Linked DNA regions of Homo sapiens. The protein of the gene in region 2 purifies or fractionates together with the protein of the main gene of each other region. This does not show direct contact. Each region holds a gene or a part of one and is shown on either strand. Other genes may lie near its edges. The genes, in order: CAPZA1 and MPG.

What was found.
Region 1: the proteins of MPG (region 2) and CAPZA1 purify together in Homo sapiens (affinity purification with mass spectrometry; 2 studies listed by BioGRID and IntAct, with this or other methods). This does not show direct contact.

Annotation. Positions count from the first base shown.
Region 1 is NC_000001.11:112,654,791-112,666,902, reverse strand, and holds part of CAPZA1 (F-actin-capping protein subunit alpha-1), read right to left. Parts: intron 7,882-12,112; coding exon 7,802-7,881; intron 7,203-7,801; coding exon 7,124-7,202; intron 5,698-7,123; coding exon of another isoform or gene 5,668-5,697; exon of another isoform or gene 5,651-5,667; intron 1-5,650. UniProt on the Homo sapiens protein: F-actin-capping proteins bind in a Ca(2+)-independent manner to the fast growing ends of actin filaments (barbed end) thereby blocking the exchange of subunits at these ends.
Region 2 is NC_000016.10:71,209-83,458, forward strand, and holds the start of MPG (DNA-3-methyladenine glycosylase), read left to right. Parts: upstream 1-7,016; 5' UTR 7,017-7,101; coding exon 7,102-7,125; intron 7,126-7,930; exon of another isoform or gene 7,931-8,084; coding exon of another isoform or gene 8,085-8,123; intron 8,124-8,216; coding exon 8,217-8,492; intron 8,493-11,843; coding exon 11,844-12,048; intron 12,049-12,250. Other genes in the region: RHBDF1 (inactive rhomboid protein 1), read right to left, coding at 318-455. UniProt on the Homo sapiens protein: Hydrolysis of the deoxyribose N-glycosidic bond to excise 3-methyladenine, and 7-methylguanine from the damaged DNA polymer formed by alkylation lesions.

The DNA.
Region 1 (12,112 bases), on a different chromosome or scaffold from region 2:
AGAACACTTAAGTTTAAGAACGCTTTTTCCTTAGCAAGGAAAACTGATTATTAAGTTCAAGAAACATTTATTACATGCTTTTCACATTCTAAGCACTGTGCTAGGCATTGTGAATACAAAGGTAAATGAGATCCCACTCTTAACAATATTAAAATAATTAAAGTTATTAAACATTAGTTTTTCTCTGTGAAAACCAAGGAATTTTAATGGATCCTCATACCTAATATTTGGCACATTTCTCCATATACATTATCATCAATGTTGGTAAGCAGAACTGACCAGGTACAGGAAAAGTCACATTGAGGGTTAAAGACAGGACAGAAAAACAAATATTTTATTGGTAAATCAGATATTTTTAAAAAGTAAGATAAAAGTAGTTCTGAATATGTAAGGTAAAGTGAAGTGCTACAATTATGCAAACAATTAGCAAAAAGGAGAAGAGACTAACAAGTCAATGACATTTTAGGTTAAGTTTTGGCAACTTAAGATAGGTTTAGTCACCTTGACAAGGCTACTAATTGGTCATACACAATAGGATGAGGGTATCCTTTTGTGCATTTGAATAGGATCTTGAAAACAGTAGTTGTCACCTAAGTAGACAGGTAGAGAATGACATCTACACCAAGGAGATAAAAAAGTATAACAGAATGGAGTATAACTGGTTTAATTTGGAGAAGAACAAAGAACTCACTGCATATGAATATGTGTAAAAAAGGAGTGTGGCAGGAGACATTGCTATGAAGTGGAAACACAGACTGTGAAGAACAAAGCACCTTATAAACCATGTTAAGAATTCAGACTACTCAGGAGGCTAAGACGGGAGGATCACTTGAGGCCAGAAGTTTAAGACCAGCCTGGGCAATATAGCAAGATCCCCATCTTAGGGAAAAAAAAGAATGCAGATGTTATCCTATTATAGGTGACACACGGGAAAAGGAATGTTTTAGAAAGATTATACTTGTGCTATGAAGAAAATAAAACGAAGGAGCTGCTATTGGAGACATAATGCCAGAACAATAGTCCAGGTAATGCCATTTATCTAGTGCTATGATTTTAATGTTGGTACCTTCCCAAAATTCTTATGTTGGACCAATATGCAATGGGATAATATTAAGAGGAGGGGCCTTTGGGAGGTGATTAGGTCATGAGGATGAAGCCTTCAAGGGATTAGTGCCGTTCTAAAAGAGGCTCAATCAAGCTCTCTTGCCACTCTTCTACCTCATGAGGACAGTGTTCACCCCTTCTGTCACGTGAGAATGCAGAAGGTGTCACCTATGAGAAACAGAACTCACCAGTCACTGAATCTAACAGCACCTTGATCTTGGACTTCTTAGTCTCCAGAAGTATGAGGAATAAATTTCTGCTAAGGTATTTCTGCTAAGGTATACCAGTCTAAGGTATTGTGTTATAATAGCTGAAACAAGGCCGGGCGCGGTGGTTTATGCCTGTAATCCTAGCACTTTGGGAGGCCAAGGCGGGCGGATCACTTGAGGTCAGGAGTTCGAAACCAGCCTGGCCAACACGGCGAAACCCCATCTCTACTAAAAATACAAAAAAAATTAGCCAGGTGTAGTGGCAGGCATCTGTAATCCCAGCTACTTGGGAGGCTGAGGCAGGAGAATTGCTTGAACCCAGGAGGCGGAGGTTGCAGTGAGCCAAGATCATGCCACTGCATTCCAGCCTGGGTGACAGAGTAAGACTCTGTCTCAAAAAAAAAAAAAAAACACAAAAAAACCCCAAACAAAGACATCTAGTCTATGCTACCAGGAGATATGTGAACAAAACAGAATGTTTTGAGGGATAAAGCAGAAAAGGAAAAGAGAAGAACAGTAATCTTCACTTACTTCATCTCACTTACTCAGTAATCTTAGCTGTAGGAGCTATTATTTATTAAGCCTTTACTATGTGTTAGACACTGTGCAAACACTTCACTATTACTTATATTCCCTCATTTAATCCTTTTTTTTGAGACAGAGTCTTGTTCTTGTCGCCCAGGCTGGAGTGCAATGGCACGATCTCGGCTCACTGCAACCTCCGATTCCCCGCTTTAAGTGATTCTCCTGCCTCAGACTCCCAAGTAGCTGGGATTACAGGCACCCGCAACCACGCCCGGCTAACTTTTGTATTTTTAGTAGAGACGAGGTTTCACCATGTTGGCCAGGCTGGTCTCGAACTCCTGACCTTGTGATCCACCCACCTCGGTCTCCCAAAAGTACTGGGATTACAGTCATGAGCCACTGCGCTAGGCCACCACATTTAATCTTTACAAAAACTCTTATGAGATGAGGACTACGACTAACCCTATTTTACAGCTGAGGAAACTGAAGTTTGCCTTGAGGCAGTTATTAAACAATAACTTATCCATGTTCACACACCTAGTAAGAGGAGGAGCTAGGATTTGAATTAGGTCAAATTCCAGAGCTATCCAACATATGTAATACCTCCCAATGCTATGTTTTGTCAAAAAGTTAGAAATTCCTTGATCTGGGGAGAAATAGTGTCTCAGCAGGGGCTTACTCTTTGTGGATATCATTAGAAGGGCATAACTAACAGTCAAGCTTCATCTAGGCAGAAAGCTATTTGCAACAAAAAGACTTTCCTGGATAACAAGAACCCCCTACCTATCCTTGTTTAAAGGACAAAAATAAGTATCTTTTTTTTTTTTTTTTTTTGAGACAGTGTCACGCTCTGTCGCCCAAGCTGGAGCACAGTGGCTGATGTCGGCTCACTGCAACCTCTGCCTCCTGGGTTCAAGCAATTCTCCTGCCTCAGCCTCCCACGTAGCTGGGACTACAGGTGCGTGCCACCATGGCCAGCTAATTTTTGTATTTTTAACAGAGATGGGGTTTCACTGTGTTGCCCAGGCTGGTCTCGATCTCTTGACCTCATGATCCCCCTGCTTTGGCTTCCCAAAGTGCTGGGATTACAGGCGTGAGCCACCGTGCCCGGCAAGTATCTTCTTGAATGAGGACAAACAGCTGGCTCTATCCAGATGGGCATGAGAAGCTAGACTTTCCATACCCTCTCTAAACCCTGAAATTTTACCTTTTGGCTTTCTAAGAGGTTAAAGAAGAAAAGACAATATAAGAATCTACTGAGAACAGGCATGGTGGCTCACACATTTAATCCCAGCACTTTGGGAGGCCGAGGTGGGCAGATCACTTGAGGTCAGGAGTTCGAGACCAGCCTGACCAACATGGTGAAACCCTGTCTCTACTAAAAATACAAAAAAAATTAGGCAGGCATGGTGGCAGGTGCCTGTAATCCCAGCTACTTGGGAGGCTGAGACAGGAGAATCACTTGAAGCCAGGAGGCAGAGGCTGCAGTGAACTGAGATTGCACCACTGCACTCCAGCCTGGGTGACAGAGAGAGACTGGAATCCACTGGAGACAAGATGAGAATCCAATGGAAAAGAAGGGTGATAATAAGAACCACTAATACTTACATGTAAAATCAGAACAGCAAAGATGTGGGCAAAAAAGACTGGGCTAAATGATGATGACATATAAAGGTTAAAATCCCAATAGATAAGAATATTTAAAATACAAGTAGGTCACAATCAAATATCAGTTTTGTTTGTTTTTTCATTAAAAAAACTAGAGGTTCAGGGACTGAAAAGAACATTCAAAAGGGGAATGAGCCGGGTGCAGTGGCTCACGCCTGTAATCCCAGCACTTTGGGAGGCCAAGGTAGGCGCATCACGAGGTCAGGAGATCAAGATCATCCTGGCTAACACAGTGAAACCCGGTGTCTGCTAAAAATACAAAAAATTAGCTGGGCGTGGTGGCATGCGCCTGTACGCCCAGCTACTTGGGAGACTGAGGCAGGAGAATCGCTTGAACCCAGGAGGCGGACGTTGCAATGAGCCAAGGTCGTGTCACTGCACTCCAGCCTGGCGACAGAGCAAGACTCCATCTCAAAAAACAAAACAAAACAAAAAGGGGGCAGGGGGGAATTATTACAAACAGGATGGGAGATATTTAAAAAAACAACAACAGATCTGGCCATAGAAGAAACAAGAACTTCTGTATTTCTCAGAACTTGTCTAAAGAGAGGAGGTATGCAGAGCACATTCTTTTTGTTCGAGAATAAAGACTATACAATTAGTTTGAACTTCTGTTATGTTTTTTAATTAGGACATGGAAAGGAATATAGGGTAAGGTCAATAAGCCTCACTGTTTTTGATCTCAATGAAAAATTCTAGGGCCAGGCGCAGTGGCTCACGCCTGTAATCCCAGCATTTTGGGAAGCTGAGGGAGGCGGATCACAAGGTCAGGAGTTCGAGACCAGCCTGGCTAACACAGTGAAACCCTGTCTCTACTAAAAATACAAAAAATTAGCCAGGTATGGTGGCGGGCGCCTGTGGTACCAGCTACTCAGGAGGCTGAGGCAGGAGAATGGCATGAACCCGGGAGGTGGAGCTTGCAGTGAGCCGAGATCCTGCCACTGCACTCCATCCTGGGCAACAGAGCGAGACTCTGTCTCAAAAAAAAAAAAAAAAAAAAAGAAAAATTCTAAAAAATATTAATTTCATTACCTAATACACTAATGTTATTATAATTTTTAGAAATTAACCCAGCCTGGGCAATATAGTGAGACCCCGACTCTACAAAAAAATAAAAAAAGTTGGCCAGGTACAGTGGTATGTGCTTGTAGCACTAGGTGCTTGGGAGGATGAGGTGGGAGGATCATTTAGTTGAGGAGTTTGAGGTTGCAGTGAGCTATGAAAGCACCACTGCACTCCAGCCTAGGTGACAGAGTTGAGATACACCGTTTCAAGAAAGAAATTAAGCTCAAAACTTATGTGTTCTAAGACCTTTTCTAGGTCTCATCTGCTAATATGAAAATGGTTCAATTAACTAACACAAATTTCAACATGATTGTCATCAACATAAATCCTCAGAAATTGTTGCCTTCTCAGAACGATGTTTTTGCCTATAGACTAGCCTGAAAGGCTAAATATCTTAACGACTTTTCCAAATAATTCTCACTCCAAAATTTAAAAGATATGTAAATGAAATAAGCTTTCCCCAAAAGTGTGCTCAATCTGTGCTTAAAAAGGTTTAAATGTGGGTCTGTACACTGGGCTGTATTTTGAATCTTACCATAAATTATCACCCTTTGTGATGTGTGCTCTTATTTTATAGGTTTGCACTGGCAGAGCTAAAATACAAATGGCTGTTTCCATCTAGAAACAAAGTAAAATTTATTTACACAAAATTTACAATAAGCTTCTACAATGCTGATACCATGGTTCTAGGAAGTTAATGCTAATGCCACAGTTACAAGAGATCTAGAGCGCTAGGCTACTAAGATATTTTGTTAACAGAAACAGAACAGTATGCTGTCTTAGGTTGCACCTTCCCAGAAGGAGACCCCAAGACAAAGATTAGAGAAAAAGTAGTTTATTCAGGAGCGAATCTCACAAAGCTACAGTAGGGGACAGAAGAAGTGGGACACAGAAGGGAAGGAAGCCTTAGAGGTACGTTTATGAGCAGGTTACAGCTGTGGGTATTGGGCTCCGGAAGACTAAACAGAATGTGCTTGAAAGTTGTCCTACTTGAGGAAGCTGCCATATTTATCTACCAACTCTTACATATCACTGAGGGCTCCTCCTAGAGCTGTGAACTCAACACCAGCCTGTCTCACCTGAGTTGGGCATGCTCCTATGGCCAGGAGCTACTTGTTGCAGGAAGCTATAGGTATATATAAAAAGAGCAGATTTACTTTTACAGAATTTATTACCTATGCACTTGATTAAATTAGAGCATTAAAAAAGACAACTCTTGGCTGGGCACAGTGGCTCACCTGAGGTCAGGAGTTCAAGACCAGCCTGGCCAACATAGTGAAATCCCACCTCTACTAAAAATACAAAAATTAGCTGGGCGTGGTGGTGTGTGCCTGTAATCCCAGCTACTTGGGAGGCTGAGGCAAGAGAATTGCTTGAACTCAGGAGGCAGAGGTTGCAGTGAGCCAAGATTGCACCACTGCACTCCAGGCTGGGCGACAGAGCGAGACTCCTCCTTCTCCTCCTTCTCAAAAAAAAAAAAAAAAAAAAAAAAAGACAACTCTTGGTAATTGTTGTTAAAGCACAGCTTCACATAATATAATACAGGTACGATTAGGTACTGATCTTCTCGGTTACCTGTACCTATTCTGACCTTACAGTTAGTGAGGCTTAAATATTAAATCACCCTGAGTTTAGAAAGTCAAACCTCTGCTAGGATATTAAACTTCAATCCAGACAGGCATCAAATGAGTTAACAGCTATCTTATTCAGCTGCCTGTCTACCCTGACATCAGCATTAAAAATCTACTTCTGGGCCAGGTGCAGTGGCTCACGCCTGTAATCCCAGCATTTTGGGAGGCCGAGGCGGGTGGATCACCTGAGGTCAGGAGATCGAGACCAGCCTAACCAACATGGAGAAACCCCGCCTGTACTAAAAATAGAAAATTAGCTAGGCGTGATGGCGCATGCCTGTAATCCCAGCTACTCGGGAGGCCGAGGCAGGAGAATCACCTGAACCCAGGAGCCAGAGATTGCGAAGAGCCGAGATCATGCCATTGCACCTCCAGCCTGGGCAATAAGAGCAAAACTCCATCTCAAAAATCAATCAATCAGTCAATCAATCAATCAATCAATCAATCTACTTCTGCTTGGCTATTTATATTCCAAAACACCTGCCATTCTCTCTAGTTATAATTTTTAGGAATTAACCCAGCCTGGGCTGGGAGGTGGAGGTTGCAGTTAGCTGAGATCACGTCACTGCACTCCAGTCTGGGTGATGGAGTGAAACTCTGTCCCAAAAAATAATAATTATTATTATTATTAATTTTAAATCTTTCCTAAAACTGCTGTTTGATAATTCCTAGTTATATCTTATGTTACCATTGAAGGAAAAATAACAATAACCATGTTGCCATACACTCTACATGCTATCCTTTATCAACTCAGAATAGCTCTCTCTGTTTACCACCCCAAGAAGGAGGCTTCTATTTCTATTCACTGCCATCAGTCTCCCTTTGCATCTACACATACTTGGTCCTTATTTAATACCAAAGCAACCTGCACATGTTTTAAAGATGTGAAGTTTTAAGTCTATAAACATGTTGGAATCTCACCTGAATCTTAAGCACGCCAACCACCTGGGCTGTAGGTGGTGTGATGGTGAACTTCCACTCTGATCTCCAACGACCATTCCTATTAAAACACACACACAACATTGCAGAATTAGCAATAAGCACAAGAAAGAGGTGATTTGCCACTGAGGTACAGAAGTTGGGAAAGAGGGGTGCAAAAAAAGAAAAAAAAAAAGAGAGAGAGAGAAACTGTCATTTCCAGTTTGGCAAACCCAAAGCTCTGTCTACTCAAATGTAAGTCTGGATCTAAGTGGCCTGACCATAAGCCTTTTCTAAGTTATTTTGTCTTTCATTTTTCCTTTTTTCCCTTGAAATGGAAAACCATGCCTATTCTGCTCATGGGAGGCTCTTCCAAAATCAGATGAATAGGCTGCTGAGTTACACAATTAACTCAAGTAGCAGTAACCCTAAGCCAAGTAAAACTCAGATTTTCAACAGGGCACTTTACTAATCACTTGTTCTCACTCAAAATAAGAGTAACTTTTAAAGGAAAATATAATTATAAAACCTTAGAACTGTAAGGAATCTAAATCCCTCATTTATAGATGGAAAACTGAAGTCTGTAAGTTAAATAATTATTCCAAGCTAGTTGGATTAAAAACCAAGTCTCAACTGCTGGTTTCTTTCAGATGTAAATAGAAGAGAATATCTACTTCTTACCAGAAGTTTTTAGGCTGAAACTGGTGGCTTTCAATACATGCAATAATAGTCTGTTGCCCATCGATAGTTTTAGCATAAACCTATTGTTGGGAAAAAAAAATAGTTAAAGACTCCAAACACTTTTAATTTAAACAACATGCATTGTACAAAAGCAGAGTGTTAAATCCTTGGGGGAGACAAAGAATCACATAAAATGAGCTTAGAACACAATAGTGCACATGGGATATGAAAACAAAGCAGAACATGTTAGGTTCTACCAGAGACAGTGATACAATGAAAACAGAGGGAAATACTGCTCTTGGTTTGGGGTACAAGGCGGGTGCCATTTAGGCTGGGTCATACAAGACAGATGAGATTCTGATAAGCAGAGACTGAAAATAAAGGCAAGACAGGAAACTAAGGACTTGTTCAGTGAACAAGACTGTCAGGTTTAAAGGGTGTGTGTGAAGTGGACTAATGAAAGACAAAACAGGATGGTAGATTTAGGTCATGTAATAGTAGATGTAAAGTAAGAAGTTTAAGATTTTATTCTATAGGCAATGGAGAGACAGCAAAACATGACTAGAACTAATATTGTGGGAGAATAATCAATACTGGTATTCAAGATAAAACGAAGAAAAGCTGAAGCTTGGTTAGGAGGCCACAGGATTAATCTAGGCAACAAGTCAGAGTTATATTAATGGGAATGGAAAGGAAGAGTTGCACACAGAATGTAGAAGTACAATCAAAGTCTAGCAGTATATTGCAAATGATGGGCAAAGGAAAGAAGGAACTCAAGAGTGACTAAAAAGATGGTGGTGTCATTAACAAACTGGAAATTACAGATGGAGATGTCTAGTTAGTAGTTAGAAACACTAACTCTTCTTTAGTGTGGGAGAGGTGAATGGAAATGCAATCACCAAGGGAAAGTAAGAAAAAAAAAATAGCGCTTTATAGTCCACAAAATATGTTCTTACATGTATTTTCTTTTTCCTCTAATAAATCTGATGAAATACAGTGTTATCTACAGATAAGAAGTTGAAGTTCACAAAGCTTCTTGCCTAAGGTCACTCAGGAAGTGGTAAAGGTAGAATCCAAACCCACTGTTTTTGTGACACCGAAGTCTGTGTTACTTTACCTGCATTAAATGAATTATGAACTTTGGGGGAATGCCTACATTTACAAAGGTAGGGGAAAAAAAGAACTTAGTATAGAGTAAGAATAATTAGGGGGCTGGGTGCAATGGCTCAAGCCTGTAACCCCAGCACTTTGAGAGGCTGTGGCAGGGGGATTACCTGAGGTCAGGAGTTCAAGACCAGCCCGGCCAACATGGTGAAACCCCATCTCTACTAAAAATACAAAAATTAGCCAGGTGTGGTGGTGGGCACCTGTAATCCCAACTACTAGAGAGGCTGAGGCAGGAAAATCGCTTGAACCTGAGAGGCGGAGGTTGCAGTGAGCTGAGATCATGCCACTGTACGCCAGCCTGGGCAAAAAGAGCAAAACTCCATCTCTAAAAAAAAAAAAGAATTAGGGGTTGCTGACAGCAGCCTAAGTAAAAGATAATTTCTAGAAGTGGTTGATTGGCTTCAGTGTGAAATGCCATTCGGAAGTCATGGACAAGGAAAAGGACACTGGACCAGGTAACTCAGGAACCATTAGTAAACTCAGAGCAGTTTCTGTAGAATGGAGACTAAAGTAAAAAATTAAAGGGTTCAGAAGTAGATAGAGGAAATGGCATTAGCAGGCAAAGAATATGTACTGACGTGGTGGTGATGCAGAGAGAGATGAGAGAAGGGAAAAAGTGGAGAAGAGGGAGAAAGGGCAAGGTGGAAAGGGCAGACAAAGAAGGAGAAATAGGCCGGGCCTGGTGGCTCATGCCTTGTAGTCCCTACACACACACAACACACACAGAGAAAAATTAGATAGGTATGGTGGTGTGCACCTGTGGTCCTAGCTACTTGGGAAGCTGAGGCGAACGGATTACAAGGTCAGGAGTTCAAGACCAGCCTGGCCAACACAGTGAAACCCCGTCTCTACTAAAAATACAAAAATTAGCCAGGTGTGGTGGCAGGCGCCTGTAATTCCAGCTACTCAGGAGGCTGAGGCAGGAGAATCGCTTGAACCCAGGAAGGGGAGGTTGCAGTGAGCCGAGACCACACCATTGCACTCCAGCTTGGAAGACAGAGTGAGACTCTGTCTCAAAAAAAAAAAAAAAAAATTTCTGTCAGTTTCAATCCTTACAAAACATGGGGGATTAGATGCCTGTCAGAGGACAATGAAAAATGTTTGGAACATACTATGTAGAAAATGTGATAGGGAATAAGGAGATGAAATTACGGACTACTAAGCAGGTCAGCTGAAGACATAAGACATAGGATACTTATATACAGCAGACACCATCACAACAATTCCATGACTTTCTGTAGGTCATTTGATAGCTAAGGACACAGTAGGGTTATTTGGTGCTGGAGCTCTCCAAATTAAGAATGGGTAGTGACAAACTTTGAACAGGTAACAAACAATAAATTCAAAGTATATTTAGGATTAAACAGTCAATTTCTAAATGGGAGTCTATCATGTCTCCCCTTTGCAATACTGGCTTCCCAACAGGAATTCTATACTTGTCCAGTCCACCATAATGGGTATTCTCATTAAAAAAAAAAAAAAAAAAAAAAAAAATCAAACATAATGACACCTAGCCTAACATTCATCTAACATTTATGTAGAGCTTACTTTGTGCCAGGCACTGTTCCAGGCATATATTACATATATTACTAATTCATTAAATCTTCACAACAACTCTATGAGATAAAAACAATTATTTCCATTTTACAGTCAAAGAATTGAGGCACAGAGATGTTAAGTAATTTACCTAAGGTCACACAACTAATTAATTGGCAGGGCCAGGAATCAAACCAGTTAGTAAGGCTTCAAAGTAGGTGCTCTTAACTGTATTCTAGACTGCCATGTAATTCATCATCATTGTATATTTAAAATATTCTAGTGAAAATTGCTGATTTTCCCACAACAAAAAAATGATAAATATGTATAGAAATCCATGTTATTAGCTCAATATAGCCATTCCACAATGTATACATATTTCAAAATATCATGTTGTACATATCATATTTTTGTCAATTTAAAAATAAAAAATATTCTAATCAATATTTTTCTTAATATGCCATAATTTTATAAAGGAAAAATAATAAAGCCAAATTTATCTATTTTTACAGTCAAGAGGGAGTAAAAGAAAATTAGGCCAGGTGCAGCAGCTCACGCCTGTAATCCCAGCACTTTGGGAGTCCGAGGCAGCTGGATCACCTGATGTTAGGAGTTCGAGACCAGCCTGGCCAACATGGTGAAGCTCTGTCTCTACTAAAAATATAAAAATTAGCCAGGTGTGGTGGTGGGCACCCGTAATCCCAGCTACTCAGGAAGCTGAGGCAGGAGAATTGCTTGAACCCAGGAGATGGAGGTGACATTGAGCTGACACGGTGCCCCTGCATTCTAGCCTGGGTGACAGAGTAAGACTTAGTCTCAAAAAACAAAAGAACAACAACAACAACAGCAAAAACAACAACAAAAAGAAAATCACTCCTGATTAAAAAAAAATTGTTTGGTTTTTTTTGTTTTTTGTTTTTTTGAGACAGTGTCTCACTCTGTTGCCCAGGCTGGAATGCAGTGGTGTGGTCTCAGCTCACTGCAACCTCCACCTCCCTGGTTCAAGTGATTCTTGTGCCTCAGCCTCCTGAGTAGCTGAAACTACAGGTGTGCACCACCACATCCAGCTACTTTTTGTATTTTTTAAGTAAAGGTTTCACCATGTTGGCCAGGCTGGTCTCGAACTCCTGGCCTCAAGTGATCTGCCCACCTTGGCCTCCCAAAGTGCTGGGATTACAGGCATGAGCCACCATGTCCAGCCAATTGTTTAGTTCTAATAGTTTTGATTACTGAATATAAACATCTAAACTATGTAGAAGTAGTTTGTGTAAAAATGCCTATATCAAAAAGCCATAAATATGAGCAAAAGCTCTCTCAACAATCTTAGTATACCATTTTTTTCTCCATGTCCAAACCAAAGACCTTTTAGATCTGGGTAAAAATACAAACAAAAAAAAATTAATTTAAAAGGTTAATTTAAAAAAAAGAAAGAAAAAAAGAAAAACCAAAGACCTTTTTCTGATGGGTGTAAGGCATTTTTCATAAGTCAAATGTGAAAACAGAATACACTGATACCTAAATTTTTTGTGCATTGGGATTTTAAAAAGAAATTTTCCATATAAAAATTTCATTTATACCCCTTTCCAAAATGATTTAGGGAATAAAATG
Region 2 (12,250 bases):
GTGCAACGGAGGCCACCCAGCCAGTGAAAGCTACTTGGAAGGGCTGGGAAAGGGTCTGAGGCCCCTTCAATCTGGCACCACCAGACTCCCATGCACTCCATTTGCCCCTGCCCCATTCTCAGGAAAAGGGGCCCGGCTTGCCCAGAATGACCCCTGGTGGCAGGGGGCTCCGCCTCAGGGACCCCTTGAGCCCCAGCCAGCTGCTTGGTCCCCAGCTTCTGCCCACCCTTGGGGTCGGGGCTAGGAGGTTGGGGTTAGCTCCACAGGGGTGAGGAGAACCGAGCCTGGGACTGCCCAGGCATCTAGCTGGGTCAAACCTGAAAAGCCAGTTTCATCCTTGAATCTTCTCCCGGTCTCCAACAGGAAGTCCCGTTGGCGGGTGGGAGTTCCCAGGATAGGAGAAGGGCCTCCAGACCTAGGCCCCACCCACCGGGACAGACACACACATTCACCATCTCAAGCGGCACACACAGAAGAAACTCTGGTCAGGACCACCTCGGTCGGAAGCAGGCCCTGGGGGGCCAGGGAAGATCCCCTGCCCATTCCCCGCCCAGCCCCACAAACATGCCCCCAGCATGACAGACAACCAGGCCCTCTGCCAATGCCCTGAGCATCTGGGGTCTGGCTGTCACCCCAGCCGGGAGAAGGCCTGTCCCCGTTGGCCTCTGCGCACAGAGTGAGAGTCTGTCTTCGGGAGTCGCTCCCAGCCCACCCTGGAGCTTCGAAGTGTACAGATGGGGGAGTCAGTGTCGTGGGGCAGAAGGCGGAGTCAGTCCCCCACCCCCAGCTCCACGGCTCCTGCTATTCCCATCGGTGAGGGCAGCCGGGACAGGGACCATCCCGCCCTGGGCTGGAGTTTCAGCTCGGAGACACCACCCGCCGGTCGTGGCCGGGAAGGAAAATGCAGCGGGGGGAGTTCAGAGGAACCTGGGGCACCCCCGGACTCTAGACTCCCGCTCCTGGGACCCTCAGCTGTTGGGCGGGGGCTGGAGCCGAGCTGTCCCGCCCGGCCAGGCCGCTGGGGCTGCTAATCCGGCCACGGGCTATTTTTGCGGCGCGCCGGGCTAGGAATCCGGGGCTGGGCCGCCTCCGCGGGCGACTCGGGAAACTCCAGGAAGAAAAGCCCGGCCGCCCCGGGGGGGCCTCGCCGCGACCCCTCCCCGGCCCCGGCCCCGGCCCCGACACGGCCCCGGCCGCTCTGAGCAGCTCCGGCCCCGGGTGCTGAGGACTCGCCCCGCCCTCCGGACGCAGCCCCGGAACCCGCCCGCCCCCGGAGCCCTGCGCTCCCGGCCGCGCTCACTCACTGCCGCCGCCGGGGGCTCTGGGGGGTCCTGAGGGCGCCGGGGAGGAGGCTGCCGCCGCTGGCCGGGAGGGCCCGCGCCGAGTCCCCGCCCGCCCGCCGGTCCGGCCCGCCCGGGAATGCCCTGGAGCGAGGGGCGTGCGCCCGGGGGCGGGCCCGGCCGGAGCGGGGCGGTCGCGCTGACTCAGAGCTCAGGAATGCGCGCCGCCCGCCTGCCCGGCCCAAGTCACCTCCTCCCGGAAGGCCGCCGGGCTCCCTTCTCCCCAGGGTCCGCCTGCGGGGACACCTGGGGCTGGGGTCTCCAGCGCCTCGGCCCGACGGAGGACCTGGTGGGAGCGGACCGCAGTGTCAGCGCTGGGCGGCTCCGCCTCTCCCTGGCTCCAGATTGAGGCTTGAGCTGTCCTGCCCTGATTTGTGCTGAGAAGAGGGTGAGGAGGGAGAGCAGGCACGGGGTAAAGGGCGGAGGATGGGTGTGTATCCCTGGCTCCCCTAAACCCGACCTCCTCCAGAGGCCCACGCTGACAAGTCCTGTATCCCACACTCACCCAATCCCACTAAGCACTCACATTCCCTCACACACATTCATGTGCACCGATCACTCACAATCATACACACACGTCCCCACATCCTTCCACTTCATGCGTTCATTCGCCTGCACATGCACGTGCTCACATGCACCCACCTACTCATGTACATCTTTCATGGGTACATACACGTGCACACACACACGTGTACACACCGATGCACACACTCAGTTCAGGACCACAGTCATTACCCCTCCCCCTGCCCTGTGCCCCTACCCCCAGAAGCCCCGCTCCACCAGCAGGCACTCAGGCCAGGCTGCACCGGCCCCACCCGAAGCCACTCAGCAGAGGCAGCGCAGTGTCTGGTGTCCACTCTGGGCTCTTCTCACTGTCTCAGAGCTCAGCGGCCACCCCGGGGTGGGCTCATATCCCTGCACAATCTGGGCTGGACTCAAAATGGCACTCTGCTTTCCGCTGGGGCTGCTGGTGAGAGTTTCCCAGCATTTCTCTCCTGACACTGGGTGGGCTGACCCTCCCAGGGTGGGGGACAGGGGTGCCAACAGCAGAGTACGGGCAGGGCTGTCCAGGAGCTCTGAGTGGTGGGTGGCCAAGGCTTCCTCTGGATAGAGGGTGCAGGGATCCCTTCGTCCCATGGGTCCCTAAGGACCCCTCTACAGGGTGCCCCCCCATGCCTCGGACAAATGTGTCTTCAGGCCCTGTGCTGGTCACAAGGTGCTGCTGCTTCAGTGCCATCCTCTGGGTCTGGGTGGCACCAGCCCTCTCCAAACTGAGCTGTTGCACTTGAGGGCCCGACGCAGACAATGGCCTGCTCCTTGGCTAGACAGAAAAGGGGAGAATTTGAACTAAAGGTGCTGGTACACTTACCGGTAGATCCCAGAGCCTGGGCAAGATTCCCCTGCCCATATCCTTGTCCATGCCACGGGATAGGGCGGTGCCTGCACATAATGGGTGCTCTCTGAACACAAGCAATATCAACACAATTCTCATGTAGAAGGAGACAATGGAAGCTTTGGAGGGGGTGGAGGGTAACTCCACCAGGGGATGACTGCCAGTGCATCACGGACACCGGGTGAGAGGGAGCCTGCCCCAGTGCCAACACTCAGTGCTCCGATAGCCTGCACGTGCCACCCCTCCCATGCCAGGCTCACAGCCAGAGACAGGACAGTCTCCATGCTTAGCATTATTGACCTGCCAGGGATAAGCAAGCCCTATCGGGCCTGGATGCCCAGACTAGGCTGGCAGGGCCAGAAGTGGTGTCCTCTCTGGAAAGCTGGGGACTGGGCTTGCCTCCAAAGCATGCCACAGCTGGGCATCTGGTGTCAGCAGGTCTCCTCCTGCAGTGGACTCTGTCAGACCCCACCTAGACCCGCTCCAAGACCCAGACACTCATCGCCAGCTGCCAGGAGCACCAGTCACAGCTGGCTCAGAGCTGAAACCCCCCGCACCCAGGAGTCACCTTCAGTGGGGAGCATGCCCCAGTCTGCCTCTGCAGGCAAATCCCCAGCTCAGAGCCTGTGTCCAGGAATCCCCAGGCTCTCAGCCCACCCTGGCCTCCTGAGTGAGGTCATCAGAAGGATGATCAGAGGGGGGTCGATACACGTGTGCTCAGTGTCAGGCCTCTGAGCCCAAGCCTGCACGTATACATCCAGATGAAGCAAGTGAAGAATCACAAAAGAAGTGAAAATGGCCGGTTCCTGCCTTAACTGATGACATTACCTTGTGAAATTCCTTCTCCTGGCTCAGAAGCTCCCCCACTGAGGCACCTTGTGACCCCCACTCCTCCCCGCCACAGAACAACCCCCTTTGACTGTAATTTTCCACTGCCCGCCCAAACCCTATAAAACGGTCCCACCCCATCTCCCTTCCCTGACTCTCTTTTCTTCGGACTCAGCCCGCCTGCACCCAGGTGAAATAAACAGCCTTGTTGCTCACACAAAGCCTGCTTGGTGGTCTCTTCACACGGACGCGCACGAAACTCAGGATTGTACCCAGTCCACATAGACAAGTGTGTGCACATATGTGTGCTCTGCCTCCTGCCTGCCCTACTACTCTCTGTCCTGGTGGAGGAGCCCCCTATACGGAAACCCAGCTCCCGGCCCCTCTCTTCCCGCGTCATGCACCCTGGAGAAATGGAAATCAGCTGCAGTTGCCCAGCACTCCCGGGGCTGGTGGGCAGGCGTCTGAGAATGGGTTAGGGTTAGGGTCTAGACCAAACCCAGGGTTTGTGGCCCTCACACCAGGACACGAGGGAATGGGAGCCCTGACCAGTAAGAGGAGTGTTCCCAACAGCTACCCCAGAATCCTCTGCTACCCCAGAATCCTCAGCTCAGCTTCTAGGCCACAAGTAATCACCCAAGGGGTCAGACCCTGGGCTTTGGGGAGTCCCTGGAAGGATCAGAAGAAACCGCCCGGGGAGCAGGGCTCCAGGGATGGGCCCATGACCAGCTCCTGGCTATTTGGGGAAGAGGCAGAAGGGGGCCAGGCCAGCCAGTGGCCTGAAGTCATAGGCTATTTCTGAGGCAGCTGCCCCCTCCCCATATCCCAGGGTTTGGCAAGGGGTTCCCATAAGCACCTGGGCCCAGGGCCTGGCAGCACAGCCCCAGGCAGGGAGGATGTAGCTCACACACACCCAACCTCGGCCTGCCCAGTGGCTGCCTTCTCTGCCCAAGGAAGCTTTGGCCCTCCAGGGCTCATCAGACACAGATGGCCGCAGAGACCAGTCAAGAGGCCAGCAGCCACCCTGCTGGGAAGCTGCCAGCTCAAAGCTGTGTAGAGGAGTCCATGGGCTCTGACCTGACACCCACCTCAACAGCTGTCAGCACCCCCCTCCATCAGAGAGAAGACGGAGCCAGTGTGCTGGGCACCCTGGGGTCATAAGGCTGATACTAGAACCCTGGCCCCTGTAGCCAATACAGCCACATCTCTCAAAGACTTGTTTATAAAGGCTCCAGCGACTGATGGCCACACCTCCTACAGCTGGAGGCAGCTCCAGCCCCTCCACAGCCTGTGGCCTATTGTGGAGGTCGGGGGTCAGGGCTGCTCACCCCAGCACCAATACTAGCCTTCACTCCTTTCAAAGCCTCAAGGGTGTTCTCATCTCCATCTTCCACTGATATCCTTGCCTCCTCCAACAAGCCTGTTCCAGCCCAGCAGTGGGACAAACTGGGGACAGAGGAAGCCCCAGGCCCCCTCCTCTCACCTGGCACCACTTTCTCTTGTCCTGGACCAGCCCGCCAGCCCACTCTGCAGGCCACAGTTGGAACTCTCATCCCACCGCTTCCAGCCTGTGGTGGGAGCATGAGACCACAAACCAGGAAGTGGGGGGGGGGAGTGCCCAGAGATTGCGCAACCCCCAGCACTCAGTCCAGAACATCTGGAGAAGTTGGTTGCTGGCGCCCCGGTGCCGGCCTCTCCACCTCCTGGGGCAGGGGCCAATCTGCTCTCCAAGTGATTCTCTTTCCTCATAAGAAAGGTGGGGATAAAAACACCCCTCTGGGAGCCTCTGGACTCCCCGTGAGTTCTGCAAGGACCATGTATCACTTGTAACATCAGAATAAATATAAGTACAAAGTAACACCCATCCTCTCCCTGCCCATCAAGAGGACAAAGGCTCAACTGGGGCCTCAGTTTCCCTACTAGACTGAGGGGGAGCACTCGGGGGGATGGGGGGCTGTTCCCACAGGAAGGAGAGACTCATTGTTTGGGAGGCATGGCTGCAGATAAGCAGGGAGGGTGTGGAATCACATCCAGGGCTGCTTTATAAACACGGATTGATGACACATTATGCCCCCACCCCGGGAAGCGGCACACAGTGCTACAAACAGCTGGTGGCTTCCAGCCGGCTGATGGCCCCTCCCTCCCCAGGAAGTCCTGGCTGGGGCCCATGGGGGTGGGACGGCTGGTCAGAGGAGGAGAGGCAGTTGGAGACCAGGTCCTGCCCTGTTAGCCTTTCTGTAGGACCAGGTGTCACACTCATCTGAGGGCTCCAGACACATGGCCTGTGCGTCTGTCCTGCCCAGCGTCTCCCACCTGACGCGGCCAGGTGCCCAGTTGCTCTTCAAGGCCTTTTCAGGTGCTCCTTTCCAGGACCAGGGTCACAGAAGTCAAAGCTCAGGAAAAGCCCCTCGAGGGTTTTTGTGCGGCAGAGGTGGGTTGTGGGGTGGGATTGTGCCTGCCACAGTGGAGGGGCCCTGCAGACCCAGATAAACCTTCAAGTGGCCAGAAGCGGGGGATGGCTCTGCTGGGTGCTGGGGCTGCCATGGGCCGTGGGAGCCAGCAGTGTGCCCAGCTCCCTCAGGGCCCGTCCCCTAGGCCCTTCCGTCCACTGGGCCAAGCACCGTCCCTGCCCCTCCCTAGGGGCATGGATCTGACTTGAGAGGTTGTGAGAGCTTACAGGCGCTGGGCCGTCGGGGAGGCCTCAGAAGCGTAGGACGGCTGCGCACTGCCGGGCCGTGTTCAGCCCTGGTCTGGCCTCGGCCTCTAGAGGAGGCTGCCTGCGCTCCAGCAGGCCCAACCCAGAACGTGGGCGAGCTCCCTTCAGCATCCCTGGGCGGAAAGAGGGATGGGGGCTCTGCTGCAGAGGCAGAATCCGCGCCGCTCCCTCCTTCCTTCCCCCGACCAGCCTGTGACAACCCCGGCCAGGGGCGGGGGCCTCCGCACAAGCCTGGCGTCCACTTCCTGGATAAGGACTCCCCGGCCCACTCCGGACCAGGGCTGGGGCGGCCTCCCAGGCGCTCACTCCGCTGGCACCCCACCGGAAAACACGTCTGCGGCCCGCCCCCTCCCCCAAAGCACGACCACTCCGCCCGGGCCCCTCGAGGATCCACTCAGGTTCACGACGGGCCCGTCCTCTCGGTGGTCTGACCACCGGCTGGTGGAGTGGGCTCTGGGGCCGCCAGGCGACCAGGGCGCAGGCGGGGGCGGACAGCTCATTGGGAGGGGCGCCGGGGCACAGTGCGGGGCTCGCCCCACCCCCAGGTGCCCCTTCCCCGCTCTCGCCTCGCAGGCACCGCATCGGGCCCGGGAATCGGTCCGGACCTGGCGGTGGGCGCTGGGAAGAGGATCCACCTCCACGTGGCCCGCCCCGCCCCGGGGGCGCAGCCAGTTCCCGGCGCTCACTGCCCCCCTTCTCCCGGCTTCCGTCCCCTTCTGCGCAGGCGCCGCTCCGCCCCGGTCCTAGGGGTGCTTCCGTGGTCGGCGGCTGCTGGGCTCCGCGCCGGGGTCCGAGTCCCACGAAGCCCCGGCCCGAGCCGCCGGATGCCCGCGCGCAGCGGGGCCCAGGTGAGCGCGCGCCTCGGCCGCCCCGCGGAACAGACGCGCCCACCCCCAGGCGCAGCAGCGAGCGCGGCCGCGGGAGCGGGAGTGCCGGGGACGGGCGTAGCGCCCACCGCCCCGAGGGTTCGGGGCAGAGCCAGAGCATAGGCCAAGGGCCAAGCTCGGGCCGAGAGCAGTGGCCGCAGCGCCCGGGGGCTGAACCCACGGCGCGCTGGCAGCGCGGGCCGAGCTGCGGAGACGGTCACGTCAGCGTCCGTTCCAGGCCGACTGGCAGTCTCCGTTCTACATTAACGTCAGCACTCCCGTTAAAAATAATGCATCTCTCCCATGCCAGGAGGACTTAGGTGCTGCTAAAGACCAGCCCTCCGGGTGCTGCCAGGCCGGCGCTCACCCGCCACCTTCATCTTCCCTTCTCCTTTGCCCCAGGACAGCCGAGGATGTGTGGTTAGGTTCCCCCTACCCATGGGGAGGCCAGAGGTGGGAGGCTGGCGGCCTGCTCGGTCTCAGCAGACCCTCCTAGTCCCTCAGGAGACCTTGCCTTTGCCCCACTTGCTCGTTATCCAGCCTGGGCCATGAAGCAGAGGACAGTTAGGGACCCTGAGCACGCGGTGGTCACCCCGGTGCTCACCCCTCCCTGTGTGTCCGACCTTGGCCCTGCTAAGATCCTGTGTTTTGAATTCTGGCAAGGGTTGGATGAAAGGGCAGGGCTCCAGAAACCAGCTCAGACGTTTGCTTGGGACCTGCATGATGAGTGGGAATCGGAGGGCACCAGCCCTGCTGTCCCAGGCTCAGGCCCCCATCTGCTCCCCAGGTCATGCAGCCTGGGCCCCCATGCCGTGCAGCTCGCACATATGTGGGGCAGAGCAGCCACCCTGCCCCCAGCAGCAGCCGTCCATCGTCAGACGTGATCATTTCCTGAGGCCTCGAGTGTGTCAGGGTGTTTGTGCCTCATAACAACCCACAGGATGGTCACCCCCGCTTTGCAGATGAAGAAACCAAAGCAGGTGGTCAGATCCAGTCCTTGCACTTCCTGAGCCTGACCTTACCACACAGCTGTCTCCTATTCGGATGCTTATTTATTTTTTTTCCCATTACAGTTTTGCCGACGGATGGGGCAAAAGAAGCAGCGACCAGCTAGAGCAGGGCAGCCACACAGCTCGTCCGACGCAGCCCAGGCACCTGCAGAGCAGCCACACAGCTCGTCCGATGCAGCCCAGGCACCTTGCCCCAGGGAGCGCTGCTTGGGACCGCCCACCACTCCGGGCCCATACCGCAGCATCTATTTCTCAAGCCCAAAGGGCCACCTTACCCGACTGGGGTTGGAGTTCTTCGACCAGCCGGCAGTCCCCCTGGCCCGGGCATTTCTGGGACAGGTAATGTGAACATAGCAGCGAGGGCCCTCCTGAAGTGCCTGTCACTGCAGTTGTCCCTGAACCCCTGTCCGCTGCCTGCTGGATTGGCCCTCAGTTAGTCCTCCTTGTCCTCATGCATTTAGCGGCTTTGCTCACACTGGTCCCTGCTTAGCTTCATCTCAGTTGCCTGAGGTCATCTGGGAAGAATGTAGAGATTGTCAGTGCTGCTTGCCCAGGGTGGAGCAGGGGTGCCACTGTCTGCCCCCGGCTCTGGGCATCTAGGGCAGGAGCACTTGCACCGTTAGCCTTCCTCACCGGCAATCCACCTCAGTTTTTCCACACGTGGGAACTGTGGCTGTGGCCAGTGTCGGGCTGCCCCTTCCCGCTGTAGTGGCTCACAGTGCAGTGCTGGCTTCCCAGGGCCCCTGCAGCTTAATGTAGGTCAAGGATCTGGGCTCTGCCAATCAGACTTGGAGTAAGAAGCAGGGACTGCCCAGGTCCCATCCTGGTGGGGCCTACGGTGCAGCCTGTCCCCACGAGCAGATGCTCACACAGCCGTGGCATCTTGGCTGGATCTGTTGGGAGCGAGGTGGTGGCGGTGGTCCTCGATGCCAAAGCCCCAGGCCTGCCTTTCTGGTTCTCCAGAGGCTCCAAGGCCTTCCCTTTGTCCTTTAATGAGCCTACTTTTAGGTTATAATCACCAAGAAGAACCAGAAGAGAAATACCAGTGCCAGGAGTTGGGTGCTAAAGGAGCAGACCCTAGAATGTGGGCTCGACCTCATGGAGAACAGAGAACATTCTGTCCCCATGCGGATCCTTCTAAAAGCACCTTAAGTAATGGGCATTTGTGGCCAGGTGTGGTGGCTCATGCCGGTAATCCCAGCACTTTGGGAGGCGGAGGTGGGTGGATCACGAGGTCAGGAGTTTGAGACCAGCCTGACCAACATGGTGAAACCCCATCTCTACTAAAAATACAAAAATTAGCTGGGTGTGATGACGGGCGCCTCTAATCTCAGCTACTTGGGAGGCTGAGGCAGGAGAATCACTTGAACCCGGGAGGCAGAGGTTGCAGAGAGCTGAGATCACGCCATTGCACTCCGGCCTGGGCGACAGGGCGAGACTCCGTCTCAAAAATAAAAAAAAAATACAATGGGCATTTGTGATACAACAAAACAGCACGTGTGGCAGGTGCGTCGTAGGAACAGGGCAAGGGCGCAGCATGGCATCAGGGACCACAATACGTTTGTCTCTATTCAGCATCCTTGTCAGGCCACAGTCATGCCCACTTGAGCCCATTGGTGGACAAGATGATGTCCAGCAGAGAAGAGGGTGTCTCACCCTGTGTCCCTTGGATCAGGGACAGCCCTCTGCCCTCTCCATAACCTCCTAGTGGATGCCCTTGCAGACCCCTCAGCCAGGCTTGGGTCATGCACTCATCCCTAAAAGGGTCACTGCAGTGAGTTGCCATGAAATCCCAGGCCACTCTCTGGGCTGAGGAGGGTGTGGTCTCCCCCAGGAGGCTCTGCCAACAAGGAAGAGGGGTGTGTGTTGGCCATGGGGGTGGGGAGGGGTGAGAGGCCCCAGTATCTGCCACTGGTGGAAATGGTATCAGTGAAATCCTGATCAGAAATTTGGGATGGAAAAGGAAACAATGAGAAAAGGGCTGTGGGAACCTCCTCTCCAGAGTGGTAGTTGGGCCCCCCCAGTGTGCCCCCATGGAGGCACAGGAGTGTGCAGAGTGAAGCCCCTGGAGGGGCATTCCCTCTAAGCTCCAGGGAAGATGGAACAGGGCCACCCTTTCTCCCCTGGACATGGCCTGGCCAAGCCTGGCCTGTTCACTTCTGTCCTCATGGCTCTGGATGCCTAAGGATTTCTGGGCTTCCCGCCCAGGCACTGACCCCTTCTTCCCACCACCCTATCTCCAGGAAGGCCTCCTGAATGCTCCCCACACTGACCCCTTCTTCCCACCACCCTATCTCCGGGAAGGCCTCCTGAATGCTCCCCACACTGACCCCTTCTTCCCACCACCCTATCTCCGGGAAGGCCTCCTGAATGCTCCCCACACTGACCCCTTCTTCCCACCACCCTACCTCCGGGAAGCCCTCCTGAATGCTCCCGGCGCTGACCCCTTCTTCCCACCACCCTATCTCCGGGAAGGCCTCCTGAATGCTCCCGGCGCTGACCCCTTCTTCCCACCACCCTACCTCCGGGAAGGCCTCCTGAATGCTCCCCGCGCTGACCCCTTCTTCCCACCACCCTACCTCCAGGAAGCCCTCCTGAATGCTCCCCGCGCTGACCCCTTCTTCCCACCACCCTATCTCCGGGAAGCCCTCCTGAATGCTCCCCACGCTGGCCCCTTCTTCCCACCACCCTACCTCCGGGAAGGCCTCCTGAATGCTCCCCACGCTGGCCCCTTCTTCCCACCACCCTACCTCCGGGAAGCCCTCCTGAATGCTCCCCACGCTGGCCCCTTCTTCCCACCACCCTATCTCCGGGAAGCCCTCCTGAATGCTCCCCGCGCTGACCCCTTCTTCCCACCACCCTATCTCCGGGAAGCCCTCCTGAATGCTCCCCCGGCGAGCATCTAAGCTCCAGTGCCCCTCCTCCCCAGCCCGTGATACTGACCATGGCCTTTGGCACCACAGGGCTTCGTGGGCTGAGGTGAAGGTAGCCTGGCTGTCCAGCTGACCTATCTGGCCTAAAAACGAGAGGTGCAGGGGATGTGGTTGGTCCCCAGTGCTCTGCTGTTAACTCTGGGGCTCCGAGCAGTGACACAACTGTTGGCCGTTACCAGGACCATGGTCCAGGCTGGGGCACCGTGGGGCAGCTGGGCCTACTGCTCAGAAAGCCGGAGGGTGGGAGCTGAGTATGAGGGTCCCTTGTGGCCACCTCAGCAGCCCAGGTTTAGGGGACTTCACGGGCTCTGGGATTGCCCAGGTAGCTGGTGTGGGGACATCCTTGGGGTCCTGTGCCTTCCGTGATGCCTGGCCTCGTGCTAAATGCTGATGGTTTTCTCAAGGGCACTTGGGAAAGGAGGAATCTGGGGAATGGAGGGTCCTGCTGAGAGGACTTGACCTGCAAGGTGAATCCATGACTGCCGGTTCCCAGCCCAGCCTGGCTGTGGCCTGAGGTATCTTCGGCCTGCGGTCTGGTTGTCTAGCAGGGCTGGAGGAGACAACTGGTGCCCTCAATAGCCACATTCAGCCTCAGCAGGAGCAAGAGAAGAGGCAGGATGGAGACGGGGCAAGGTCCCTGGCTAGACCTGGGCGGCTGACACACCCTGAGCTGGGGAGATGAGGTCCAGGCTGGGCACTGTTAGGGTGAGTGGACCCCCATCCCTTCCCGCCCTGAGCAGAAACTGACTGCCCACAGGTCCTAGTCCGGCGACTTCCTAATGGCACAGAACTCCGAGGCCGCATCGTGGAGACCGAGGCATACCTGGGGCCAGAGGATGAAGCCGCCCACTCAAGGGGTGGCCGGCAGACCCCCCGCAACCGAGGCATGTTCATGAAGCCGGGGACCCTGTACGTGTACATCATTTACGGCATGTACTTCTGCATGAACATCTCCAGCCAGGGTGAGCAGTGCTGGGGCACGGGGGGTTGGAGGGCCGGCAGAGCCCTGTCCGCTAGCAGCCAGGGGACCACTAGGAGGACTGAGGTGGGGCCAGCATTTGAGCGAGGAGGTGCCACTTCCAGGCCAGGCCAGGGTTTCGGGAGCTCTGGCTACGCTGACGGGGCAGGGCTGGTTAGGTTAAAGGGGTAGAAAGGGCCGGGTGG